4 linked regions of the Homo sapiens genome follow. The protein of the gene in region 1 interacts with the protein of each later gene in a pairwise test. Each region holds a gene or a part of one and is shown in the gene's direction. Other genes may lie near its edges. The genes, in order: APCDD1L, CYBC1, YIPF1 and FXYD6.

What was found.
Region 2: the proteins of APCDD1L (region 1) and CYBC1 interact in binary tests that used the Homo sapiens proteins (3 or more experiments, as listed by UniProt).
Region 3: the proteins of APCDD1L (region 1) and YIPF1 interact in binary tests that used the Homo sapiens proteins (3 or more experiments, as listed by UniProt).
Region 4: the proteins of APCDD1L (region 1) and FXYD6 interact in binary tests that used the Homo sapiens proteins (3 or more experiments, as listed by UniProt).

The regions. Positions count from the first base shown.
Region 1 is NC_000020.11:58,470,399-58,477,427, reverse strand, and holds part of APCDD1L (protein APCDD1-like isoform 1 precursor), read left to right. Parts: intron 1-6,680; coding exon 6,681-6,819; exon of another isoform or gene 6,820-7,029.
Region 2 is NC_000017.11:82,442,059-82,447,754, reverse strand, and holds the end of CYBC1 (cytochrome b-245 chaperone 1), read left to right. Parts: intron 1-133; coding exon 134-175; intron 176-1,058; coding exon 1,059-1,132; intron 1,133-1,794; coding exon 1,795-1,891; intron 1,892-3,163; coding exon 3,164-3,308; intron 3,309-3,630; coding exon 3,631-3,751; 3' UTR 3,752-5,162; downstream 5,163-5,696. Other genes in the region: HEXD (hexosaminidase D), read right to left, coding at 5,163-5,578. UniProt on the Homo sapiens protein: Functions as a chaperone necessary for a stable expression of the CYBA and CYBB subunits of the cytochrome b-245 heterodimer. Controls the phagocyte respiratory burst and is essential for innate immunity.
Region 3 is NC_000001.11:53,872,769-53,879,797, reverse strand, and holds part of YIPF1 (protein YIPF1), read left to right. Parts: intron 1-1,075; coding exon 1,076-1,156; intron 1,157-1,395; coding exon 1,396-1,483; intron 1,484-7,029.
Region 4 is NC_000011.10:117,873,637-117,880,672, reverse strand, and holds the start of FXYD6 (FXYD domain-containing ion transport regulator 6 precursor), read left to right. Parts: upstream 1-4,014; 5' UTR 4,015-4,081; intron 4,082-7,036. UniProt on the Homo sapiens protein: Associates with and regulates the activity of the sodium/potassium-transporting ATPase (NKA) which catalyzes the hydrolysis of ATP coupled with the exchange of Na(+) and K(+) ions across the plasma membrane.

The DNA.
Region 1 (7,029 bases):
CTCACGAGGAAACATCAGACCATCCCAAACTAAGGACACTACAAAATAAGAGCCACTACTCTTCAAAAGTGTCAAAGTCGTAGAAGACAAAAAGAGAAGATATGTCTCAGATTGAAGGAGACATGACAGCTCAATACAATGCAGGATCCTGGACTGGATGCTGGACCAGAAAGGGGACATTAATGGGACAATGGATGAAACTTGAATTAGGTCTGTAGACTCGTTAAGAACACTGTATTGATGTTAACGTCCTGGTTCTGATCATTGCACAATGTCTGCGTAAGATGTTAACCTGTAGAGAAACTGGACAAAGCATACACTAGAACTCTTTCTACCACTTTTGCAACATTTTTGTAAGTCTGAAATTATTTCAGAATGAAAAGTCAAAAAAGTAAACCGAAGTAAGAAAGCAGATAATAAATGCCAGATGTGATGAGTGCTGCACAGGAGAGAAGAGAATGGAGTGAACAGAAGAGGGGTGCCTGGAAAGGATGCACTGCCAGGAAATGCCATTTATGCCGAGATCTCCGCGAAGATGGAGAGCCCAGCACAGAGCAGAGGATGGAACAGCACAGGCAATAGCCTCAAGGCAGCCAAAGGTTTGCCCTTTCAGCACTAGGGACTCACAGTGGAAAAGCACGGTGGGATGGGGTGGATGATCTGGTGGTAAAAAGGCACCCAGTTTCAAAGGGCTTCGAGGCTACACAAGAAAGCTTGGATATTGAACCAAGTGCACTGGGAAATCATTGAAGTTGTTGGCCATTGTTTAAATTTCCATCAAGACACTTGGGATGGTTTGAAGTTCTACTCTGATGTGAGTCTATTTGATTAATGTCAGTCTCTCCAGGAGAACAGGAATTCTGACCATCATGTGCAGCCATATAGACCCAGAGTCCATTTCATTTCCAGGCATACAACAGGCATTCAATAAGTATTTGGGGCAGGGCGCAGTGGCTCACGCCTGTAATCCCAGAACTTTGGGAAGCCAAGGTGGGTGGATCACGAGGTCAGGAGATCAAGATCATCCTGGCTAACATGGTGAAACCCTGTCTCTACTAAAAATACAAAAATTAGCAGGGCATGGTGGCATGCGCCTGTAGTCCCAGCTACTCAGGAGGCTGAGGCAGGAGAATTGCTTGAACCTGGGAGGCAGAGGTTGTAGTGAGCCGAGATTGCACCACTGCACTCCAGCCTGGGCGACAGAGCAAGACTCCGTCTCAAAATAAATAAATAAATAAAAATAAGTGTTTGTGTTGGGGAGAAGAAATGAATGAATGAATGATAGTTGGGTCACCTGGGGGACCTCAATTTTGGATGGCCCTTGTTATCTGCTGTGGGTTGAATGTAACCCCCCAAAAAAGATATGTTCGAGTCCTAACCCCCAGTACCTGGGAATAGGACCTTATTTGGATATAGGGTCTTTGCAGATGTAATCAAGTTAGGATGAAGTCACACTGGATTAGGATTAGGGTGGGCTCTAATCCAGGGATTGGTGCCTTTATAAAAGAAAGGAGAGGGAGATTTGGACACAGGTGCAGACAGAGGAAACACACAAGTAGGGATGAAGGCCATGGGAAGATGGGGGTAGAGACCAGCGTGATGCAGCCCCAAGCCAAGGGACACCTGGAGCCACCAGGTGCTGGGAGAGGCCCTACCCACACCTTGATTTCAAACTTCAGACTTGCAGACTCCAGACTGGGAAAGGATCGACTCCTGTTGCTTCAGCCACTCAGCGTGTGGTCTTTGTCGTGGCAGCCCTGAGATGCCCAGATGCTCTCCTTTCGCGTGCCTCAGGTGAGGTGACGAGTTCACCTTGAGCTGCTCCTCCCTCCGTCTTCCGTGCACCACCCTCAGGCCATTTACCACACCCACGAGTCCCTTGTACATCTCCTTATAAAATATGATTTTATTAAAATATTAAAAGAAAATAATTAAAATACCAAATATTTTAATATCAAGTTCAGATCAATCACCTTTTAAAACTCAGTCCTCAGAAAAACGGGCCATGCAAGTACAAGGCTGTTATGATAACTACCGCCACTTTTAACACCCTCTAAAACCGACGCGTGACTGTTGGAATACGAAGTGCTCGCTTCGCGCCTGAAATCACCTCGCACCCCACCCTGTGTTCGTTCGTGCCTTGCTTCGAGAACCTCAGAACAAGCAGATTACAGGAGAAAAAAGTACTTTTCTTTTGCTTTTTACCCCCAGAAGAAAGGTACCTGAAAAGCTGATATTTCTCCCTCTGCTCTGACTACAAAACTCACATCTTTTCTCCACCCTCTTCTCTCTTTGATCCATACCTGCGTTTTTCATGATCTTTGAAGAAAACATAAATTGTGGCCCCAGGAGTGAAGCCTCTCTAGGCCTCCACTGTTCATCTGCAAACTGGAATAACCACACCCATCTAGGAGAATTGCTGGGGAAGGGAGGTAAGAGAAGGGCACAGAGTGTGGGATTCCATCTTTATGAAATATCCAGAATAGGCAAATCCACAGAGACAGAAAGCGGAGTCATTGTTGCCGAGATCTAAGAGGAGAGGGGAGCGGGAGTGACTGCTGATGGGCACAGGGTCCCCTTTTGAGGTGATGACAACATTCTGGAATGAGATCGTGTTGGTGTTTGCACGGTATTGTGAATGTCCTAATGCCACCAAATTGTTCACTTTAAAATGGTTAAAACGGTGCCTGTTATTTTTTGTTTTGTTTTGTTTTGTTTTGTTTGAGACTGAGTCTCACTCTTGTCACCCAGTCTGGAGTGCAATGACATGATCTTGGCCCACTGCAACCTCTGCCTCCTGGGTTCAAGCGATTCTTCTGCCTCAGCCTCCCGAATAGCTGGGATTACAGGTGCGCGCCACCATGCCCAGCTAGTTTTTGTACTTTTAGTATAAACAGGGTTTCACCATGTTGGCCAGGCTGGTCACAAGCTCCTGACCTCAGGTGATCCGCCCACCTCGGCCTCCCAAAGTGCTGGGATTACAGGTGTGAGCCACCGTGCCCAGCCAAGATGGTACCTTTTATGTTAGGTGTATTTTACTAGGTGTGTTGTTGTGTTTTATTTAGCTAAGAAGCATCTGTCTGTGGAGGAGTGGCAATGGCCAAGTCCCTCCACCCCTCTGAACCACAGTTTCCTCATCAGCAAAATGGGTGCATTGACAGAACCCATGTCACGGGTGGTTGTGTCGATTATACCTGTCAATCCTTTGGGCTCTGCCAAGGTACTGACACGCTGCCGCTGTGAGGACTCAAGGTCATGATGCAGATGAAGCACCTGGCCTTGGGCCTCCCAGAATGTGTGCTCAGGAGACGCTGGGCACCATTTGATGATCTCAAGACAATCTTAGCCAAGTGCCCACACTTCTGGGTGTGCTCAGTGAGTGTCCTTTCCCCGGAAGGCCCCAGGCAGGTCCATATGGTATTTGTTCATGAGGCCTGTTTCTGGTGCTCTGATTCAGGATAACACATCGGCCTCAAGCAGGTCATATTTTAAGCTCCGGTAGCCTGGTCTGAGCAATTGGGAACTCTAGATTTAATTCTGCAGGTAATTTGAACAATGCTATCTAATTTCAAATGTCCCTGCTCTTATGAATGCAAAAACAGCATAATTTTTAATTAGTGGGTAAACAGTAAATAATGAATGACAGTAAGTGGACACCACTGTTAATTAAAAATCCATGGTTGATAAAAGTCAATTTGGTCCATGCATTTAACTCCGTCTATCACTTCCCTGCAAAAAGTTGTGTAACCCAACCCACCGCACCATCTGCTTTCAGCTGTTATTTCTTTAGTTAAGACTTTTTTGGAGGAAGAGAAGGGGTGGGGGGGGAAGCAAAGAAAATCCAACATCTACCCCAAGAGCTATGTTGGAGAAAATGTCATGGAATCATTTATAATTGGTTAATTTCGTTTTTGCAACCTTGAAGTTGAGACTTCACGCATGACCAAGAGGCCACGTGATGCTCCTCCACAGGTGCATCTTGAGGAGCTCTTCGCATTTGTGTGTACATGTTCCGAATGCAGCAACACTTCGCTGTATCTCAGAGTCTCCCAACATAATTAAATCCCAGTTCCTCACAGAAAAACAAGATAAACTAAAATGCACTCGGCAGAAACACAGGATCTGAGGATTCATGACAAAAGGGCCATCTAGTCTCAGTGACTTCAGGGAGGGTGCAGGGGGAAAAAAAAAGCCTTGTTTTCTTTTGAACAGAAAAACATTTCCTCAAGAGCCCAAGTTTTGTGGAAACAATGACAAGATAATTTGCAGGGCCCCTTCACTATTTTACTCTGAAACGCAAGCTTGATTTTCCTACCAGGCAAATATTGCTGACCCCTTTTGATCCTTTTCCTCGCTCTGTTTTCATCCATTCCCCCAAATCAACACTTTTGGACAGGTTTCGTTGACACTGAAGATGTTCAAATTAACCTGCAGAATTGAATCCAGGAAACCCAGTGTCTTCTGAAGAAGCAGATTGCAGAAGCCCCACATGCACGTGGTGTTGACGCTGACGTGCACCCGTCAGCTCAGGACTCCTGGCGAGTTGCATGGGGATCTGGCCCAACTTTGGTGCCTACGTACCCACTACAATATCCTGCCACAAATTCCTGCAAAGTAGACGTGCCAAGTTGAGACAAAACAACCACGGCCTCTCTCTTTCAAGATCCCACTGGCATTTCTTTCACTTGGCAGAGTGGCCCCAAGTGCTGATGAGTCGGTGTGGGGACACCTTGGCCCTGGCTGGGTGGCTATTTGTTTTCATTTCTCCTATTTGGCTAATTAAAGCCAATAAATCAGTTGCAGGATGAACCAAGATTACAACAGGGACCTAGGGCTACACCAGCATTTGTACTCATACCTTCGTTTATTCAGTCGGCCAATGTTTGTTGACTGCCCTGCGTTTTACCCCGTCTCCAAGTCAGCCCCTTTTGTGTTCTCTGGGGATGTGAGACAAGCACCGGTGACGCCGTCACACCCCGAAGTCCAACAACCTGGGCTCACATCCTGGCTTTGCCACATCCGGGTGGCATGTGCCCCGTGGAAGCTGAGCCCATCTCTGAGCTGAGCCTGTTTCTCTGCCCATGAGAGGAAGATGATGCTAACACCGACTCCAGGGTTATTGCAAAGATCAGATGGGAATAATGTATAAAAGAGCAAGGGGTCCACACCCAGTTAACAGGTGCCGTCATCCCCCTTGTCATAATCAGCGTCACTCCTGCCTTCTCAGCTGATCACTGGGGACCCCAAAAGTCTCCAGAGGCAACCCCCAACCTCAAGGGAACTGAGGAATCCACTCTGCCTCATTTTCCTCAAATACCCCTGGGGCACAGAGAGTTTGGGGTCAGGCAGCTCCGCGGGGGCAGTGGGGGGCCCTCAGCTCTCCTGAACCCTTGCTGGGAAGGTCTGCCTGCAAGGTCAGGAAAGGGACAGAACACGCCATCTGCTCACTTCTCAACTCAGCCCCCAACCCCTCCCAAGGCCTCCTGAAGTTACTGCCAGGCCCCCACATCCCCTGGACTGGAGCCCTAAGACTCAGCCCCTCCTGACCCACTCCAGCCCCAGGCTGGGTGGGAAGAGCCATGCTTGGAAGCTTCGCTGCAGGAGCTGGGCCTCCAGGGCCAGGCCAGCGCCCCTGAGCACAGCCCGTGGCTGGAGTATTTGGACGCAGCTCACTGCCGAGCTTCCCACAGCATCCCGTCATCTGGGCCATCTCAAGCCCATCAGCCCTGATTGGAGATGACAGTTTCTGGGAGAGCTGCTGCTCTTTAGCAGCTGAAGGTTTTGGCACTCTCGCCTCTCAGCAGCCCGAGAAAAGATCGTGAACAGTCCCACTCCCGGGCTTCACTTCTCCAGGCCCAGCCAAGCTCATCTAGGGGTCACTCTAGAGGACCTGGAGCTTGTGCTGCAGCGCCTGCTTCCCGTGTCCATCTTCCAGTCACCTTCTGCCCTGAGCCCAATTCCTCCCCCTGGTGTCTGGGCTTAGGGACGGAGCCCTGAAGAAGGGCAGGGCCTGCATTGTTTGGCCTCACACCTCGGCCCGGGCCTCTGCAGCGGCCATGCGCTCTTTCCCTTGCCACACGCTCGCTGAGCACCGAGTAGATAGCAGGTGCCCAGCACCAGGTGAGACCTGAAGCGAGTGGCCTCGAGGGGCCTGCTGTGTGCCGGGAGAGGCCAAGCAGCCCCCAGGGCTCCTTGGTGGAGGGGAGTGGTCTGCTCTAGGGATAGGCTAGGGCCCCACTGTCCCCAGCACCTTGGGTCCTGAGTCCAGAGTGCCCTTTGTCCAGGAGCGTGGGTCCTTCAGCCACCAGCAGGCAGGACTCAGCCACGGCTGATGAGCCCGTGGAAGGTCTGGGCTTCTAAGAGTCTGCTCCACGTGTACAATTCTCAGAGGCCTCCCAGCCCCAGAATCTGGGACAGGCTCCATCTAGGAGGCTTGGATTCTAGGGTGATCACATCTGGGAACCCAGGAGGAGATGCGTCGGGGAGGCTGATTCTAGGATCCTCAATATGGGGAACCCATCACTGTCTCCAGAACTGGGGCACCCTGGGGACGGGGCTGCGATGGAGGTTGCGGGACAGCCCTGCCTGGCTCTCTGTGGCCACAGTGGGGTTGGGAGGGCAGATGGGGTGGGTGTTCCCGGGGCATGCTGGGGTCTTACCCAGGTCTGTCTGCTTTGCAGCCCACACTGCACCGGCGGCTGGGGAGGCCGGGGGCAGCTGCCTGCGCTGGGAACCCCACTGCCAGCAGCCCTTGCCAGATAGAGTGCCCAGCACTGCGATCCTGCCTCCACGCCTTAATGGACCTTGGATCTCCACAGGGTAAGACTTCAGGTCATCCTGACCATGGACCCCTGGACTGGGAGACTTCTGCCTCTGGGACTCGGCATCCAATCTTTGAAATGGGCATAATTCACATAGTTATCCAAGAGGCCTTCTACCTGCCAAGCTGCTGGAGATGCTTGCCTCCCCTCCCAGAGTGCAATGGGAGGCAGGGACTCTGTTGGGCATCACGTCCATGGTCAAAATCCA
Region 2 (5,696 bases), on another chromosome or scaffold:
GTAACCCCTGACCACAGCTGTTCCTACAGTGGGAAGGGCCTGCTCATCAGGGGCTGTGGCTCCTGGTCCCGCTGCACCAGGGAGGTGGGGTCTTACCGGGATCAATAGGCAGGCAGTCACTTTCTCTTCATAGGAATCTTGTCGATTGGCCTGGCTGCTGCCTACTACAGCGGAGGTAAAGCACCCCCCGCCCCACCCCCCCATGACTGTCTCAGCTGTTTGGAAAACAGAGAAAAGAAGGAAAAACTGTCATTTGTGACTGTCCATGGGGCGGCCTTTAGGATCGGCACCTCTGCCCCTTGATTGCTGGCGGGCACCGCGCCCTCCATGCGCTGCTGTTCTTCCGCACGCCCATCCTGCCCAGCGCTCAGCCCACATTTCACTTCTTTTTTTTTTTTTTTTGAGACGGAGTCTCGCTCTGTCACCCAGGCTGGAGTGCAGTGGCGGGATCTCGGCTCACTGCAAGCTCCGCCTCCCGGGTTCACGCCATTCTCCTGCCTCAGCCTCCCAAGTAGCTGGGACTACAGGCGCCCGCCACTACGCCCGGCTAATTTTTTGTATTTTTAGTAGAGACGGGGTTTCACCGTTTTAGCCGGGATGGTCTCGATCTCCTGACCTCGTGATCCGCCCGCCTCGGCCTCCCAAAGTGCTGGGATTACAGGCGTGAGCCACTGCGCCCGGCCACATTTCACTTCTTAAGTCTTCTGTGTTTTTGGGTCATCAAATATTCCCGGAGAGATGCTCTTGAGGATCTAAGATCCAGCTGTGGGATGAGGTGTACTTCCCACCCTGCCACAATCACTGGGCCTGCCCAGACGGGCAGAGGCCCTGTGCGCCCCACCTGCCTCTCTCACGTGGACTCTGGGGGTCAGAGCTGGGTGGGGTGTGCCGCGTGTGGGTCCTGAGTGGCCAGGGCAGGGTCAGCAGCACAGGAAGCTGCCCAGGGGGTCCTTGCAAGCGTGGGCTCTGGCCAGCGTCTGGGGGAGGCTGTGCTAGGCGGGGCCTCCCGTGGGCATGTCCCTGGAGCTCACAGGCTGGCGCCCTATGCCCATCTCCAGATAGCCTGGGCTGGAAGCTCTTCTACGTCACAGGCTGCCTGTTTGTGGCTGTGCAGAACTTGGAGGACTGGGAGGTAAGGCCGGCTCGGGTGCGGGACAGAGTCCAGGGCTGTTCAGCTCCTGGGTTTTTTGCAATGGGAATGAAAGGAGGAGGAAGGGCCCTGGGTGGCCTAGCGCCTCCCCGTCCTGAAGCGTTGGTCCCTGCTTGGAGGTCTCCGTTCATCAGGACATGGCCCCTGCACTCATCTGGGACCGTTCTTGGCCAAGGAATTCCCCGAAGGCATTTTTCTCTTAGAAGCTCTCCATGACTATCTTCACCAAAGTGCTTTCTTCCCAGAGTTGCCACAATGGGATGCGAGTCAGCTTTCCCCGTGGCCGGCCCTCCCACCTCGGAGCCCCTCATGAGTCCTTTCAGCCTGGCCCAGTGCTGCCCTCTGACCTCCATGCCCTCGTTTGCTGGTTCCACTGCCTCCCTGCACTTGTTTTGCCTGCAGGGTGGAGCAAGCGCCTGCTGCACCTGCCCACCTCTCCATTTCCCAACAGGAGTCGGGTTGGCTGCCGATATCCGGCTCTGACAGAGCAGCACCTGTGGCTTCAGGGGTTTGGGTTCTGACTGGGAGGGTCCCCAGCCCCCCTTCTTGAGTGTCCACCCTGGTGAGGGTGGGGGTGAGGCCCCAGCGGCCACGGGGCCCCCGTTCCTGGAGGTTCATGGTGGTCAGTGCATGTCGGTTTCCAGGAAGCCATCTTCGACAAGAGCACAGGGAAGGTTGTTTTGAAGACGTTCAGCCTCTACAAGAAGCTGCTGACTCTTTTCAGAGCTGGCCACGACCAGGGTGAGTCGTGGGGAGCGTGGGGACATGGGACACGGCCACAGAGGCGGCGCACTTGGGCGTCTGGGTGACTCACGGGGCCTAGAGGGGGGCCTGGAAGTGCCTTTGGTCCAAGCTCACCTGCTTGGTGACCAGGGTTGTGTCCTGCCCGCTGGAAGCAGGATCCCACGGATACGCCCCACCTGCTCACCTGCTCAGCAGGGTCCTAGAGCCTCCTGGGTTCTTTAGAGGTTTGGCCCCTGGGGAGAGTGGGAGGAGCAGGGGTCTGAGGAGCAGGGGTCTGGCAGAGCAGGGGTCTGAGGAGCAGGGGTCTGGCCCACCCGGGCTCGGGCAGCCTCTGTTTAGCTGCATTCTCCCGTCTGCCTGGCAGCCACTTGTCCGCAGGTGCAGTCTGGCCCCAGCGGCAGGTCACAGGACGGGGCAGGGAGAGCCATGGCAGCCCGTGGGCGTTCTGGAGTGGGGCCACCTGGCTTCTTGCGGGCCTTGGCGCTGCTCCAGCTTTCCTGTGGGTTCTACTGGGCCTGCAGTAGGGGCTGGATGGTCCGAGGAACTCCCCACCCTTGAGCCTGGGCACTGGCCCAGCTGTGGTCAGTACCAGTTTCCTGTAGATGCTGCCGCACAGACAGACAGAGGCCCCGGGGTCCGGCCGCCCATGCATAGCCCCAGAGGGGACAGATTCTGGCGACCAGAGTTGCTGGGCAGTCTTGGGTTTAGTGCCGCAATGCTGCACTTCTGACAGGCTGCTTCCTGGATCCCTGCAGGGACCTGGCCAGGGCATTGGCCCCAGGTCACCTGTGGCTTTGGGGAGAGCAGTTGCAGGGCTGGCCTGGGCTGTGGGAGGCAGCTGTGCCGTTTTCTGACAGCCATTGGGACCGCCCCAGTACCCGAAGAGGTGGCTGCCCTGAGTTGCCACGGGAAACTGCAGGGTGGCCCTGGCTCAGCAGCCAACCTTGGGGAGACCTGGAGGAACAGTGCAGTGTAAAGATGGCCTCGCGCTGAGCGGGTCCCCGCAGTCGGCACTCCCAGGAGAACCAGCGGGCTGTGCATGTGACCCGCCAGCCTGCACCGCGGGCACGTCCTTCCCACCCAGAGGACCCTGCACTGCCTTCAGGGCCACAGCAGTCCTCCGGGGCCCAGCCTCAGGCAGGAAACAGCAAATGCTTTTGCTGCCAACCAAGTGTGGCTGTCGCTTTCGATGATGCCAGTGGCGCTGGTGCGACTGCCGGGCAGCATGTGTGGGCGGGGATGGCTCGGCCACTGACCGTCTCCCCGCAGTGGTGGTCCTGCTCCATGATGTCCGTGATGTGAGCGTGGAGGAGGAGAAGGTCCGGTACTTCGGGAAAGGCTACATGGTGGTGCTCCGGCTTGCGACGGGCTTCTCCCACCCCCTCACGCAGAGTGCAGTCATGGGCCACCGCAGGTAAGGCTGTGGGACTTTGATCTGGCCGGAGCTGCAGCCGTAGCAGGTCACTCCCGTTCCTGACTGCCCAGAGCTATGGGGCAGCTGGGAGAGGAGATGAGTTTGTGGACGGGACACAGAGGGGCCCACGGGAAGCGTGTGCAGGCTCAGGGGCAGCCCCACTGTGACGGGGAGGCTGGGAGCAGGCCAGGAAGTGCTGGGTCCAGTTTGGGAGCTCCAGGGTCTGCGGGAGGTAGGTGGTCGAGGAGGAGACTGCTGTGGGGTCTCACGGTGCCCTATGCCGAGGTGACCTGACCTTCCTCCCGTTGCCGGCCTCGCCCAGTGATGTGGAAGCCATCGCCAAGCTCATCACCAGCTTCCTGGAGCTGCACTGCCTTGAGAGCCCCACAGAGCTGTCTCAGAGCAGCGACAGTGAGGCCGGTGACCCTGCAAGCCAGAGCTGACAGCCCCACTGTGCCTGAGCCCGTGCACCGCCCACAGGACCCATGGCACATTCCCGGTGTGCCTGAGCCCGTGCACCGCCCACAGGACCCGTGGCACATTCCCGGTGTGCCTGAGCCCGTGCACCGCCCACAGGACCCGTGGCACATTCCCGGTGTGCCTGAGCCCGTGCACCGCCCACAGGACCCGTGGCACATTCCCGGTGTGCCTGAGCCCGTGCACCGCCCACAGGACCCGTGGCCTTGGCTTCAGTTGGTGCCTCCAGCCGAGTTGGCCTATTGCCTGCTCATGCTGCTGCTTGCACACTGCATGAAACAGCAGGCCAGACCAGGACATCCAGACTTTCTCCATCGTGAGGCCTGGGCCTGCCTTTCTGCAGCCGGAGGTCTCGCCAGCCCTGGACTCCTGCTTTGGGCCACAGCAAGACCTCGGGCGAGTGGAGAGGCGGGGCCAGGCCGGGCCCTTGTGGGTGCTGATGCTGCATGTTGTCCCCGACACAGCGTCCTCTCCCTGGTGGACATCCCCAGCGGTCAGGTGCTTCCCCAAGGGCAGTGAGGGGTGAACATCCAGGGCCTACCTGGCTGTGCACGCTGCAGCCACACTGTGGAAGCTGCCCCTCCCCGAGGACCCGCCTCCCTTGCTGATGCCAGGATCTCGGCGCATAGACCACTCTGCCCCAGCGGTCGTCACAGAAAGGTCTCTCTGTTCCTCACACTCAGCTTCAGCATAAGCTGTGAGGCCAGAAAAAAGGTCAGCTCTTCTAGTATCGTGCAGTGCTTAAAAACCGGGAGCTCCAGCCGGGCGCAGTGGTTCATGCCAGTAATCCCAGCACTTTCGGAGGCCGAGGTGGGAGGATTGCTTGAGGCCAGGAGTTCAAGACCAGCCTGGGCAACACAGCAAGATCCTGTCTTTGTAAAAAAACTAACCAAACAGGAAAAACTGGGAGATTTTCTGCAGAAATTGAGTTCCAGCCTCTCTCGAACCTGGGAAGACCTGGCAGGAGGGGGCTGGGCTCTCGGCTACAGACTTCTCCCCACCCCGTAGGAGCTGAACGCCAACCATCCTGACCCGCCAGTGCTCTTGGTCTCCTGAGTGTACCCAGGTCCTCCCAGGTGCGGTGTGCACCGAGCGCGCCTGGCCTGATGCCCTGGCCTGTGAGCTGGGGACTCCTGGGCCCTGTGAGCCCCTAGGCGGCAGGCCCAGGAATGGCTGGGTAGGACAGGGAACACCTTTGCCCCACGTCTGGCTGTGACCTCGGTGAAAGCCGACAGGAGAGAGATGGGACCCTCCTCCTCAGTAGTGGCTGCCAGTCCCTCGTTGCAGGACAGGGTCATCATAACCATAAATAACCCTTCACGTGTCACCTGCAGCTTCCACTCTTTATTTCCAAAGAATCAGTGTCACACATGCAGATCACAAAGCGGGTCTCCCTGTGCTGCTTCCTTCTGTGTTTTCTAGTCTCTCCCCCAGGGGCTGCCCAGGGCCCTCAGGAACTGAGTGTGGGCAAGACACTGCTGGGCCAGAGGGCACGACGCCCACGTGGGCCCGTATTGCCCAGGCCATTTGGCAGTGCAGAGCCCCCCCAGCCTCCAGCAGGAGCCCCCTGGCATGAGCTCTCCCCTCAGGGGTCCTGAGCAACGTCCCTGCCAGGGCTGGTGGGTGGCAGCGGGGGGGCAGACACCTCGCTGAGGTCCTGCAGCAGAGCTTGCAGCCGCTGCAGGCTGGGGTGCACGTTTTCCTCCAGCCACTCCTCCACGGCATCCGGGTAGAAAGCCAGCTGCAGGGCAGCCTCCAGCTCCTGCACGAGGGTGCTCCACTGTGCCAGGAGGCTGCAGGTGAGGGCGCCATGAACGCACAGTCTGCACACTTGGGACTTGCCCTCAGCCCCATGGTCAGTACTGCCCTGTGCCTCAGTTCACCTGTGAAATGGGGCTACTGACCCTACCT
Region 3 (7,029 bases), on another chromosome or scaffold:
ACCGCTTTCACTCCTCTCTGTGAGTGCTGCAGACCACAGCTACTTCTAATCGGCCATCCGTTTTCCTTTATAATGAACAAAAAATATCTGCCTATAGCACCTGCCCTTGTCCTGCAAAGCAGCTCAGTGTTCACCGTACTTTTTGCTGTATGAATTCCCTTCGGATATCTGAAGATGACAGGCACAATTCCTGGCATTGGGCATGCATTCTGCCACCAAAGAGCTGTGTTGTTGGGATGGGTATGGCCCTCCTCAGGTGCCTCTTCTCAATAGGATTTTTTTTTTTGTCAGAGTAGTAATATTTTTAGTACTTTAGAGTGAGTCAATATATCAGATTTTTGAGAATTCAGGTGGCAATAGTAGGGAGGATTGTGGATGGATGGGGGAGGAAGAGATATTTACACTGCTGGATGCAGTGGCTCACGCTTGTAATCCCCGTGCTTTGGGAGGCTGAGGCGGGAGTATCACTTGAGCCCAAGAGTTTGAGACCAGCCTGGGCAAAATAATGAGACTCTGTCTCTACAAAAATTAAACAATTAGCTGGGCATAGTGGTGTACGCGTGTAGTCCCAGCTGCTTGGGAAGCTGAGGTGGGAAGATTGTTTGAGCCCAGGAGTTCAAGGCTGCAGTGAGCTATGATTGCACTACTGCACTCCAGCTTGGGAAAGAGAGTGAGACGCCATCTCAAAAAAAAAAAGCGAAAAGATATTTACACTGACTGCCTTCTGTATGTGTTGTATGTGTGTATATGTATTTATTATTGTACATAATTCTATATACTGTTGAATCTAGATAAGGGAACTAAGCCCAGCAGGAGTCTAGTGATTTGCCAAAGCTCCCCTCAGTGGAGGGGCCAGGATTTGAACCCTTTTGGTGTGACTTCAAAACCAATGCTTGTTTTTCTAATCAGGCTGAGAGTTGCGAATTGGCTATTTCAGAGTTGGTTATTGAATGTGGAAGAGCCTATTGTTTCAAACGTTTTGCTTTTCCATTAGATCAGATCCCTCCTGCACCCCACGCAGCTGGAATTAAGAAATTGCTTATGTGTTCATTATGTTTTATTTTATTTCTGACAGTTACTTGCTGGACAGAAGAAAAGCTCCCCCTTCTGGACATTTGAATACTACCAAACATTCTTTGATGTGGACACCTACCAGGTTTGGAAACCAATTTCACCTTTCCTTTTACGGGTAAAGGAGACTTGTTTCTTTAATGGTTGAACAACCAAATAATGTGAAAGCCTTTATATACTGAAAATGGTCTTACAAAAGTAAAGGGTTATTAGCATTTGAAAATACTATCATAAAAGCTCTAATGACTGAGTTTCAATTTTGTAGTAGTTGAATTTATTAAACTTAAAAAACTTCAGTAGAATTACTGCTATGATGTTTTCCAGGTCTTTGACAGAATTAAAGGATCTCTTTTGCCAATACCCGGGAAAAACTTTGTGAGGTTATATATCCGCAGCAATCCAGATCTCTATGGTATGTTTAGTACTGATTTGTTTACCGTATTTCAGTTGAACTTGGGTGAGTGTGAGGGTTGCCTGGAAATGTGGAGAACTGCACTATTGGTGGGGCATGCCATGTATTATTAGACTTTTCTGAACTTCAGTAGCAACCCTTGCAAGTAATTTTGGAGGAATACAATTATGTGTTATATTAGTGCCACGTCATCATTACAAGTACTAGTATATCCTTCAAAGGTCTTTAAATGGGGCTGAGCGCAGTGGCTCATGCCTATAATCCCAGCACTTTGGAAGGCTAAGATGGGAGGATTGCCAGAGGCTAGGAGTTTGAGACCAGTCTGGGCAACATAGCAAGACCCTGTCTCTACTAAAGGCTGGGTTGGCACAGTGGCTGCCGCCTGTAATCCCAACACTTTGGGAGGCCAAGGCAGGAGGATTGCTTGAGCCCAAGGAGTTTGAGACCAGCCTGGGCAACATAAGGAGACCCTATCTCTACTAAAAAATAAAAATAAAAAGAATGATTTTTAAAAATTCTTCAAATAACTTTACAACTTGAGACAAATTTAGTCACTTTGACTAGGTGGAGATTGGACCATTTGATGTTGGAGGAGAAGGTATTCTCACACTTTTTCATTGATATGCTGAGTTCCAGCTCTGCCCTCAGATGAGCTGGCTCCTTTTAGGATTTGGTCACCAGCAGTGGAAGTCTAAAACAGGATTGGGCCGGGGATTGTTGTCATCCCTGACCTTAATGCTGTCTGAGAAAAACTCAGAGGTCCACCCAGTACTCCTGAGGAAAAGGCCCCAACAGTGGCCTGTGTTTGAGGGGAGAAGAGAGTGCTGTCCGTGTGCCAGGTGCTGTACCAAAGACTGTGTGTGTACTTGATCATATCTCATTCTTGCAACAACCCTTGCAAAGTATCCCCACTTTTCAAATGAGGAAGCTGATGCTCAGTGAGGATCATTGATATATATGCTCAATCAGAAATGATAAATAGTAAAGCAGTCATATATGTTGATTTTAAATATGGACTCTAGGGAGCCTGGTGTGAAAACCATTGCACTGGCCCATGCTTTTCATCTGAGGGTTGTCAGGGTGGTTTCTCTGTCTCATTCATTCTTACTTGTAGCCTGAGAACATCCTGAGGGGCAGGCTCTGTGCCTCAGTGTCTTTAGTGCCTGGCAGAGGCCTTGGCACACAGCAGGTGCTCAAACAATTTTTAGCACCTTATTTTATGCTAGACTCTGTGCTAGAGGCTGAGGATTTAAAGATAAGGCCATGGTCCCTAGCCCCAATGAGGAAGAAGAGAGAACACTAACATCTGTTGAATACCTTATAAGTGCCAAGCGTGGAGATAAGCACTATTTTAGTATTTTATGCTATTTTATTTCCCATACTCCAAGGTAGCCTTATCTTACAAAAGAGAAAACTGAGATTAAGGAGATAACTTGCCCGTAGTTACAGAGTTAGCAATAATAATGGCAAACACACATATAATGCTTATTATGTGCCAGACACTATTATTAGGGCAGTACCTGTATTAACTCATTTAATCCTTATGCCAGATCCAACTTCATGAGGGAGATACTATTATTATCCCCATTTTATAGATGAGGACACTGAGTCACACAGAGGTCCAGTAACTTGCCTGAGATTATACAGCTAGTAAGTGCTGGGCTCAATTTTCAAATCAACACTGTAGCTCATAATCCATTTCTTCATCACTATGCTATACTGCCTCTCATGACAAAGCCAGGGCTTGAATCCAAGGCTTGCTTCTTTTCTGTGACACTAGTAGCCTCATTAGCTCATAGACGTGGTTAAAAGAAGAAGGTACAATATAGGTGAAGTGTTTGATAGCAGAGAGGATTAGGTTTTGTTGTGGGTGGAGGTTAGAGGAAGGCAGTTAAGAAAAAGATGACAATTTACAGAGTGTAAGGAAAAGATTGATAACTTTGACTACATTTCACCTAAAATTTAAAATTTCTACACAACAAAATAAACCATAAGTAAAGTAAAAAAATAAACCACAGACCAGGGGACATACTTCCAATGCATATAACCAACAAACAGTGAGAAACAAGAATATATGTCGAACTCCCACAAATTAGAAGAATAAACCAAGCAACTCTGGGGAAAAAATTGCCAATAAATATATGAAAAGATGCTTAGCCCCACCTGCAACCAGAGAAATAAAAAGTAAAATAAGATTATTTATGCTCATTATTTTAGTAAACATACACAGTTTGGCTTGTCTTCATTTATTCATTCAATTCATTCAACAAACATTGAGCTCTTGCTATTGTACTGGAGATACAGCAGTGAAAACATAAAAATCTCTACCCTTAGGCAATTTTTAATTTACTGAGCTTAACAATAAGCAAAGAAAAGTAAAATATATAGTTTTCTAGTAATGAATGCTTAGGTGAAAATTTAATAGCAGAGAGAAGAAGGACATGAAGTGTTTGTATAAATGGGTGAATTTGAAAATTTAAAAAGGTGAATTTTGAGTAATGACCTGAAGTAATTGGGAGTGATTTATGTAGATATCTAAGGGAAGAGCACTTGAAACAGAAGGATCAGCAAGTGCAAAGGCCCTGAGGCAAGAGCTAGCCTAGTACATTCAAAGAACCTCAAGAGGCTATTGCGACTGGATGAGAGTGAACAGGGGGACCTAGAAGGAGATGAGGTGAGAGAGACAGTGTGGAGGGACAGGTAAGGTCTCATAAGTCACAGTGAGGACTTTGGCATTTGCTTGAATGCAAAGCCATTGGAGAGTTTGGACAGACGAGTAACATACTTTTTTGTTTTTTGAGACTGGGTCTTGCTCTGTTGCCCAGGCTGGAGTGCAGTGGCTCGATAATGGCTCACTGCAGCCTCAAAATCCTGGGCTCAAGCCATCCTCCCCCACCTCATCTTCATGAGTATCTGGGACTACAGGCATGTGCCACCATGCCTGGATAATGTTTGTATTTTTTGTAGAGACAGGGTCTCACTATGTTGTCCAGGCTGGCCTCAAACTCCTGGCCTCAAGCAATCCTCCTGCCTTACCCTCCCAAAGTGCTGACCTTACAGGCATGAGCCACTGCCCCAAGCCAGGAGTGACATACTCTAAGTCAGATTTCATGAACATTGATATTAAGTGTGGCCAAGGATATGGAGCAGTGGAAACTTTTGTATGGTAGGTATGTAACTGGTGGGTATGTAACTGGTACACAAATTGGAGCAGTTTGAAGATGCTTATACCCTATAATTCAGCAGTTTCACTCCTAGGTAGATAATTTTAGAGGAATTCACATATATATGGAACAACATATAGAAGAATATTATCCACTGTAGCAGTATTGCTTGTAATAGCAAATATTTAGAAACAACCAAGATATCCATCAGCAGGAGAATGGATACATTGTGCTACTATATTTATACATGGAATTCTGTAGTTAAAAAAATGAATGAGAGCTAAAAGCATAAATATAGATAAATCTTAGCACAATGATTTTAAAAAGCATGTTGTGGAAGGATATGAATAGAATGATACCATTAAAAATATATATATATTTTTTGAGACAGAGTCTCACTCTGTCACCCAGGCTGGAGTGCAAAGGCGCAATCTCGGCTCACTGCAACCCCTGAGTCCTGGGTTCAAGTGATTCTCCTGCCTCAGCCTTCCCGAGTAGCTGGGACTACAGGCATGTGCCACCACGCCAGCTAATTTTTGTATTTTTAGTAGAGACGGAGTTTTACCATGTTGGCCAGGCTGGTCTCAAACTCCTAACCTCAAATGGTCTGCCTGCCTCAGCCTCCCAAAGTGCTGGGATTATAGGTGTGAACCACCATGCCCGGCCTAAAAATATTTTTTAAAAGTGACATGCTAGGTAACCAGTGTTTGTGTTATTCTTCGTGCTTTTCTGTATGTTAGAAATATTTCATAATATAAAAATGCATAATATGAAATTTTAATTATAAATACAACCTAAATTAAGGCTCTCTCCCACCCCCAACCCATAATAAGAGTAGGAATTTGGCAGGAAACGGAGAAGGCAGTATGAAGCAACATGGCAGGTCCTGGGATGAGTGGGTGTCGTAAGTCTCTGGAGTCCAGCCTTCCACTGGGGGTAGCTGGAGAAGTTACAGAGCCCAGATCCTGGGGCCTTTTATATCAGCCTCAGGAATTAGGATTTTGTCCTTAAGCAGTGGAGGTTCAGTGAAGGGTTGCAAACGGGGGAGAGGGATGATAATAGGAGAGGGACAAAAATGCTAAGGGCTGGGAAAGTTATCTTGCTTGTGTCCAAGGATGAGCATTGGGCCACATAGAGGTAGTGGGTGGGCAGGTGTTGGACCTTTCAGGCCACCTGAAAATATTGTTTCTCCAGCTGTTCCCGTGCCAGAGTTGTTAGGTAGCTTAGAGCATGGGGCAGCTAGAGAATGCTAGATAAGTCTTCACATTAGTATACATATCTTCCCATACCAGCCTGCCTTTAAAAAAGTTAATTAATATTTTAGTGAAAGGGTTTCATCATGTTGCCCAGGCTGGTCTTGAACTCCTGAGCTCAAGTGATCTGCCTGCCTCAGCCTCCCAAAGTGCTGGGATTATAGGTGTGAGCCACCGCATTCCCCCCCGCCCCCACTTTTTTTTTTTTTGAGATGAGGTCTTGCTGTGTTGCCAAGGCTGGAGTGCGGTAGCTATTCAGAGGCATGATCATAGCTCCCTGCTGCCTCAAACTCCTAGCCTCAAGTGACCCTCTCACCTCAGTGTCCTGAGTAGCTGGGACTACAGGCTTAAGCCACCAGGCCCAATTCACAGGCTTCCTGTTGCCCTCAAGATAAATTCCTAACTCAACAGGGCTTCTAAGACCCTTCATGATCTGACTCTGGCCCATCTCTTCAATCTCTGGCTACTCCTGACCTGAAGCTTGGCCTCGAACTGGTACCTCTTACTTCAGTCTCTGCTCCTGCTATTCCCTCTTCACGGACCTCTCTTCTCTTCTGTCCTCACTTGGTGAACTCCTGTTCTTCTTTAGATCCCAGCTTACACATCCCTTTCTCTAGGTTTTCCACCTTCCCTATATGCTCCCATAGGCACCCTGTACTACCTTCTGAGATTAGATATTTTATTGATCGTCTCCCCGGAGTGCATGGGTGCACTAGAGGCAGTGACTGTGTCTCTGTTGCCCATCATCGTGTCCCCAGCAGAGGGTAGTGGGTACTTAGTAAATAATGACTGAGAGGACATAATATTCTTGGTTTTCTAGTTATTTGGGTATTGTAAGTTAATATTTTGGCCACTTGTGGTCATACCCTTGGATGGTCTCAGCTCATCTATAACACATGGTCAGATTTATTCATTCAGTAAAGCTTTTTGGCTATAGGGGCTTTGTGGGGTTTTTTGTTTGTTGTTGGTTTTTTTTGCCACTCTTATGTGTGGTCACTCAGAATAATACTGTGAGATTTAGTCCTTGTCTACAGCAGAAAGCTTTCAGTCTAGTGAGTAAAGAGGCAGTTTGTGGAGAGCTAATATTGGTGACTTTTTGAAGCATACCCATTTGATTGCTTGTGTTCCT
Region 4 (7,036 bases), on another chromosome or scaffold:
CAAGGATTGGAGTGATGAGGGTGATGGGGGGAAATAGGGCAGGGAATGGGTCACGAGATGAAGCAGGAGAGGCAGGTGGGTGTCAGGTTGTAAAGGCTGAATGTCGTGTTAAGAATTTTGACTTTAACTCGTAGAAAATACGGAGCCATTGAAGTTTTGAATCGCATTTGTATTGGGGAAGATAACTCTACCTAGAGGTAGGGGGACTGTGGCAGAGTCACCAGTGAGAATCTGATGCCAGAGACCTGACCTAGAACAGGAGTGGTGGGCAGGAAAGGAGGCACTGGGGGAGAGGTCTGAGCGTGGCATGTGTTCTGCAGGGTAACTGGATTGGGGGCAGTGCCATTCATGAATTCAAAGAAGACATGAGAGGGAACGGCTTCAAGCCGTGAGAGGATGGATAGGGAGTGGACTGGGAGGATGGATTGGGAGTGGGCGGTGCTGACTCCCTGGGATTACTTGCCTGGGTCTCCTGGGGAGAGGACCGGGCTGGATATTGTGGACTCATCAAGCCTAAGCGGGTGGTAAAACCCTGGTTGTGGATTTAGATTGTCTAGCAACTGCATAAGATGACCAAGGACTCAACACAGCTGCTTGAGGGAGAAGTTGGAGGAGTTTGACAAAGAAAGGTTGGAGAGAGAGGAAGGGACCCAGGATCAAGGAGTGGTTTGGAAGTGAGCAGAGCTGTTTCAGCCAAGGAGCTAGGAAACGATTCTGTCCTAGGGGTTGGGGGTTTGGCATTTGGCTGAGTGGGGAGGACACACATTCACACCTGTGCAAAGCCAAGTGGGTATGCATGGACACAAAGTAGCAGTCAGTGGGCAAGATCGGCTCCCTTCTGCAGCCCCACCCCAGGATGAAGTGGCACCCCACTAGAAGGGATGCCTGCTAGGAGGGGTGAGGGTCTCTTCTAAGACTCCTGGTCTCTCCCCTTTAACTTCCCCTTTAGGCCCTCCATGTCCGGTGTGACCAGGACACAGGAGGTCACTCTGTGACCTGTCCGTGGCTGTGTGACCAGGGCACTGACATGCGGAAGGGCTATTTTGCTGCAATACAAGGGGACCAGGGCAAGTCCTCTCCAGATGGGATTTTAGCTGCACATTTGTGAGTTACTTAGCCCAGAGCAAGCTTCAAAGCATAGAGCAGTCCCTGATGCTCCCAGCAGTTATGCTGTCCTCTCCAGCTCCAGGTCTTCCCATGGTTCCAGTTCTGGCGGGTGGGGAGTATTTCAGGAATGGTTTCCACCCTTTCTTACCCTACTTTCTCCATGGCTGCGCAGCCCTGCCCTGGATCTTTTTTTGTTCTTTGGGCTTGTAAAGAAGCAGGATTCTTTAGTGGGGATCAGGCTTATTTCTCAGCTTCATGTTAGTGCTGCCCCCACACAGCCCCCTGAACCCTGACTTGCAGGGTCCACCAGGAACATCCCAACCCAACCTCTCACCAATTCTTGCTCAGAACAGTTTTCATGATGCCCATCAGTGCTTCCCAGGATAAAAGCTGGAATCACCAGGAATTGTTGGGCCAGTCCCACCCTGGCTCCTTTCACACCATGCCCCTTCTGCCTCAGGGCCTTTGCACATACTGCTTCTGTTCCAGAGGCAGAATCATCTTCCCACCCTGACATCCCAATTCTTGGCTCCTTTACCTCATCTTCTTAACATCTCCTGACCTTTCTCAAATGCTATATCTTCAGGGCTCTGAACTGTGTTTTAATTACACGTTTATTCATGGGAACATTTGCTAAATCTCTATCTCACCCAGGGACCACATCTTTCCTCTCCACAGTATATCCTCAGATCTTGGCCCAGGTCTCAGTGAAGAGTAGCTCCTCCTGTCCATACGTGGTTGAAAGAATGGAACAGCTGGCGACCTCTTTTTATGAATGCCCACATTTTTCACAGGGGGTAGATGTGTTTATTTTCCTGCTAGAAGGGAGATGTGACTCACCCCAGAACAAGCTTGCGTGCTGCTTTGTAGCTGTAACACCCCAAATTCTTCCAGCAGTACCCTTGGATGGAACGTGATGAAGCACTATTTGAGAGTTAAGCCATGGCGGTTTCTCATGCACATTTAGTTCCTGTTATCCCTCTGCAGCCTGGGCTGGTCAGCATTAGGTAGGGGGACCTGGGAAGTCACTGGGCCAAACACTTCAGAACTCTCTGGCTGGAAATGGGGTTGAACCAGAAGGTGGCTTGGCTTTGGAGTTCTGAACTATCCTTTCCCAAATAGGCTTGCAAAGCCTGGGCTTGACGTGTCATCACTAGTAGGTGCTCTAAAAAGCACAGAGAGATGGCCAAAAGGCAGGATTCAAGGGCATTTGGAGGGATGAATGTACCTGCCTAAGGACATGGGCCTAGAAAGGGATGTGGTTTTAAATCTGCCACCTAGAATACATGAAAAGGGAAAACGACAGTTGGAATGCTGTCCTCAGTTTATAGAGGAAAAGACAGGAACGGCAAAGGGTTAGGCACGCAAATAGGCAAGATTTGAGTCTGGCTTTGGAGAAGGAGCTTTAGCATTCACAGGAACCCCAGGGAGTTCAGGACTGGGCCAGAGTGGCATCCATTCAGCCAGGTCCCATGATTAAGGGGCCAGAACTATCCCCTGAGGGGAGGCTTTTTGGGTGCTCTTTCTCAGTAGCTATTTATGGTTCCCCTACTGGTTCCAAAGTCTTCTTGAGTTCATGTATATTTCCTGCCTTGGGGTTTTGAGACCTGACCTTTTATTAAAATAATTAGATCATCTAGGGCAGAGCTGGAAGAGACCTCAGGATCATCTAGTCCATCTCCCTATTTTCCCAAATGAGAAAACAGGCCCAGAACTGAGGGCAGCAGAGGCAGGGCTAGGTTTCTTCCTAGCAGTACCCATCATCCCCGGCTTGGGGTTTGTAAGGAACTCTCCGTGGCCCTACCTAGGCTTGGACAATCACAGCCTTTCTCAGTAGCTCCTCCCTCCACCCGGCTCGGCCATACACACACCTTGACTGAGGCTGGACAGCCTCCATCTCAGCATGGCTCCTGGCTACTGACACTTGTGCCTGGCCTCTGCCCCTTCCTACAAGCTCTGCCCCTAATAGTAAGAGCCAATTTCTTGAGCACTCACTATGAGCTAAGCCTCCCATGGGGTCAGTCTCTAATCACCATTTTCCCACGTGAGGAAATAGACTCAGGAGCTGAGTGCAGAGATATGCTCCAAGTCGCGTCACAGGCAGGGTTGCCGAGCCAGGATTTATTTACATCTTCACATTCAAAGTTCGTCATCATGAATTTTGACTCTTGGGGACTGGGCTGAGGACGGGGTGGTACTGCTCCTGGCAGGGCCAGAGGTGGATGGGGCTTGAAAAGGGGGTTCAAGGCAGCAGATCTATGGTTCAGGTAAGGACCATCCCCCCAGCTCCCCACCTGGCTCTAGCTGAAAATGACAACTACAACTGGAGCTGGCTCCTGCGCCCACGACACAGCCATTCATGCTTTTGGTGCACATTCCCCTTAATTACCAAGGCTCCCAATTAACGTGGGCTGCTGTGTCTGGTGCTGGGTTATTTTCTCCTATTTTTCCGTTCCTCGGGGTTTACTATTGCAGAGAGACACCAGGTCTGTCATTGTGCCTGTCTTGCTCCCTTCCCACCCTAACCAGAGGGAAACCGAAAAGCAACAGCTGATGGCAAATCCGCTCCGGCGCTTGCACGCCTCCTCGGCGGCAGTCTCCTGTTGCTTCTCGGAGCTTGACTGCCCTTTGGAAAAATCTCTCCGCCCCTCGAGAGGAGAGAGGAGCAGAGGACGCGCGCGAGCACAGAGCGGGAGGACGGACAGGGAGAGGAGGAGAGGGGGTCTGCGCGCGGCCGCTACCCAGAAGCCAGCGGACGGCAGCACGGAGTGGGCTGTCCCCGAGCCCAGCCCCGAGCGAGCCCCCCCCCCGCCCCCGCAGGACGCGCCTCCCAGCCAGCCCGACTCCTAGGAGGAGGGGAGGCGGGAAAGCAGCTCAAGCCTCACCCACCGCCCTGCCCCCAGCCCCGCCACTCCCAGGCTCCTCGGGACTCGGCGGGTCCTCCTGGGAGTCTCGGAGGGGACCGGCTGTGCAGGTAGGCGGCTGGGGAGGTGGGCAAAGTTGGCTCCTTTTTCCGAGGAGGGGCGAGGCTCGGTGGGGACCGATCTCTGGAGCGCCGGGAGCGCCGGGTTTTGTGTGTTCAGTGGGTGTGTGCGGTCCTCCGCGGTCAGCTGCGCCGCGGTCCCCGCCTGGGCAGCGGGAAACCGGGCTGGGGATGTAAACAAGGAGATCGGCGTCGGAAGAGAGAGGAGCCTCTAGGGGAGGCAGGCTGTGGCGCTGGGGGTGACGCTGGTGGCTGGGAATTGCTCTCGGTGCTGCCTTGAGCTTGGGGTCAGGGTTTTCAGGAGAAGGGGAAAGGGCTGCGCCCACCCTTTATCCATGAGGAGTTTTCCCTTTGTTACTTGGAAGCTGTGGACACTTGGTGGAGCGTGGGGAATTACGGACGAGGGCGTGTGGCTGGGTGTGAGTGTGGACTTATGAGCGACACAAAATGGAACTTGCTGGTTTGGTGCTTGGGGAAGGTGGGGCTGGGCAGTGGGCACAGGATGGGGGCGCAGGGAAAGAAGGATTCTAGCGCTCGGGGATTCATGAGAGTGCATCATTTTTTCCCTCCTTCTTGTCTTATCCATCCAATCCTGTTTCCTTTCCGGGGGGCCCTGGGGTCCGCCATTGCCCCCTTTCCCCAGCAGGGCTGGCCCTGGCAGAGCCTCCCCTATTGTGTCTCCCGGGCTTCCGTGGAGAGTTGGGTGTGCAGCCTGGAGCTCCCAGCGCTGGCTTCTGGCTCTTACAAGTGGTGGCTGGTAGAGGAGGCACCCGAGGGTGGGAGCTGGGAGCAGCCTCGCTGGAAACATGGGTCTGCCGCGTCACCTGCTGCAAGCCTGCACGCTCGCGGGACCGTGGCTACTGGAGGCTTCTCCCCACCAGTGTGCTCTCTGCCACTACTTCCTTTGTCTCTGTGGCTTCGTGCTGTCTGGCTGGGCTAAGATTTCCAGCTTTGAAGATGGATCAGTGGGCATCTCAGGCCCTCTCTGAAAGGAGCCCCCTTTGGGGATCCAGCCACCCTCATATTATGGATGTGTATGTCTACGTCCGCAACTTAGCCTTTTGCACGTGACTTGCCTGGTCGTTGCCATGGAAACTCCTCCATTTCTCAGCCTCCCTCTTTCTCCTGCCCATTCCTCACCTCCATATCTCCTCCCCTCCCCCCAGTATGGTTGCCTAGATACTGGTTATCCCTGGCTAGGAGACCTAGATATCTGGCTCCTACACCCAATTGCAGTGGCCCCTTACTCACACCACCCACTTCACACACACTGCACATCACCAACACCACAAACACATACAGACATATACCACACTACGCAATCAACACACCCTCACACTCACACCACACATACATATACATCATACCTATACACACATACACACCAAACACACCGCATATATACCGCACCACCACACACCAGCTACAATGCTACACTGACACCCTACATGCGCACTGTGCATGCACACACACACACACAGTACATCTAAATAAGTCTCAGGCTGGGCTGAGGCAGGGGAGAGAGAGGGCAGTTTCCTTCCTTATCCAGCCACCTCCCTAGGGGTGTGGAGGGGAAGAGATGGAGGCTCAGGAAGCCCAGAAGGAAAACCCTAACATCTCCCTGGGAACCCTGCAGAGGAAGGTGGAGGGAAAGGCACTGCCAGATTCCCTCAAAAGAGGAGCCCCTTCCCTAAACCTGGAAGGGAAGGTTGGATAAAGAGTGGGCGCAGCCCTTTTCCCTCCTCCTCAAAGCCCCAGTCCGGAGCTCCAGGTGTTAACGAGAGCCATTCCCAGGTGCTGGGCTCCAGAAGCTGGGCACTGACCAGAATTTCAATCTCTCCACTGCCGCTGCTCTTTTCCCTGACCCAGAGAAAGCCTGAGGCTCTGGGAGTCATCCTCACCAGCAGAGGATCAGGCCAGCTCTGGGACCATCGGAGGCTCTGAGCCCTAACAAAGGAGAGAAGGAAAAGTGGTTACTGTCCCAGGAAAGCCAAGGAGGCCAGGCCAGGGAGGCAGGAAGGGGAGGGAAACCAGAAAGAGGGAAGGAGAGGGGCCACAGGAGTCAAGAAAGCGAAAGTTAGGGCTACCCGCCGTTGCCTGGGGTTCAGGCCACCCTCTCTTCCTGGCACGTTTTCCTGCTTCCCCCCTGGCTCCTCCAAACAGATCTGTGCATCTAGGAGAGGAAGCGGGTGTGCAAAGGGCTCTAGGCTTGCCAGGGTTCTCCCAAGACGTGTGGCTTCTATGGTTGACAGACGGTAGGCGCCTGGGGGAAGCGTTTCCTTCCTGGCTTCCATCGGATCTTCAGACTGACCTGAGGACCGATTTCATTCAATCATTCAAAGAACTGTTTTAAGTGTCTACTGTGTATTAATTGCTGGGGACATGAAGGTGAGGAGGGAGACACAATCCCTGACATCGGAATCCTAGGTTTCTCAGAGCCGGAAGAGGCCTTGAGGGAGCATCCAGTGGGAACACAGTGGGGGAAACTGAGGCTCAGCAGTCACGTGGCCAGTAGTCGCTGAGGCCTTCTAACTCCTCGGCCAGGATTTTGGCCTTCACACTGCCTGTCCTGCAACCCTTGCTTTCTTTTCTCAGTCACCATCAGAGATGGTGGGTTGATGGAAACCTATGGAGGGAGAGCCTTTGGTCGGCTGGTGACTGGGACGCCCTTCCAAAGTGAGGGTCCCTTAGTGGGCGGGTACAACCGAGGAGCCTGCTTCACTATGTTTTCTTGGAAGGCGAGGCTGGAAGCTGTGGCAAGGAGATGGGGGAGAAAGGGCAGTTTCCTAGACCCTGGAAATTTCCCGACAGCCTCGGGGGAGTCCACCCACCGAAATCTCCCCTAAATAAGAGCACCTCCTCTCTTCCTCCCAACCTTGTTGGACTTAGTCGGCCGCCATCTGGATGGCAGACTGTGCCAGGCAGCCCCCCAATATTCACCTTCGA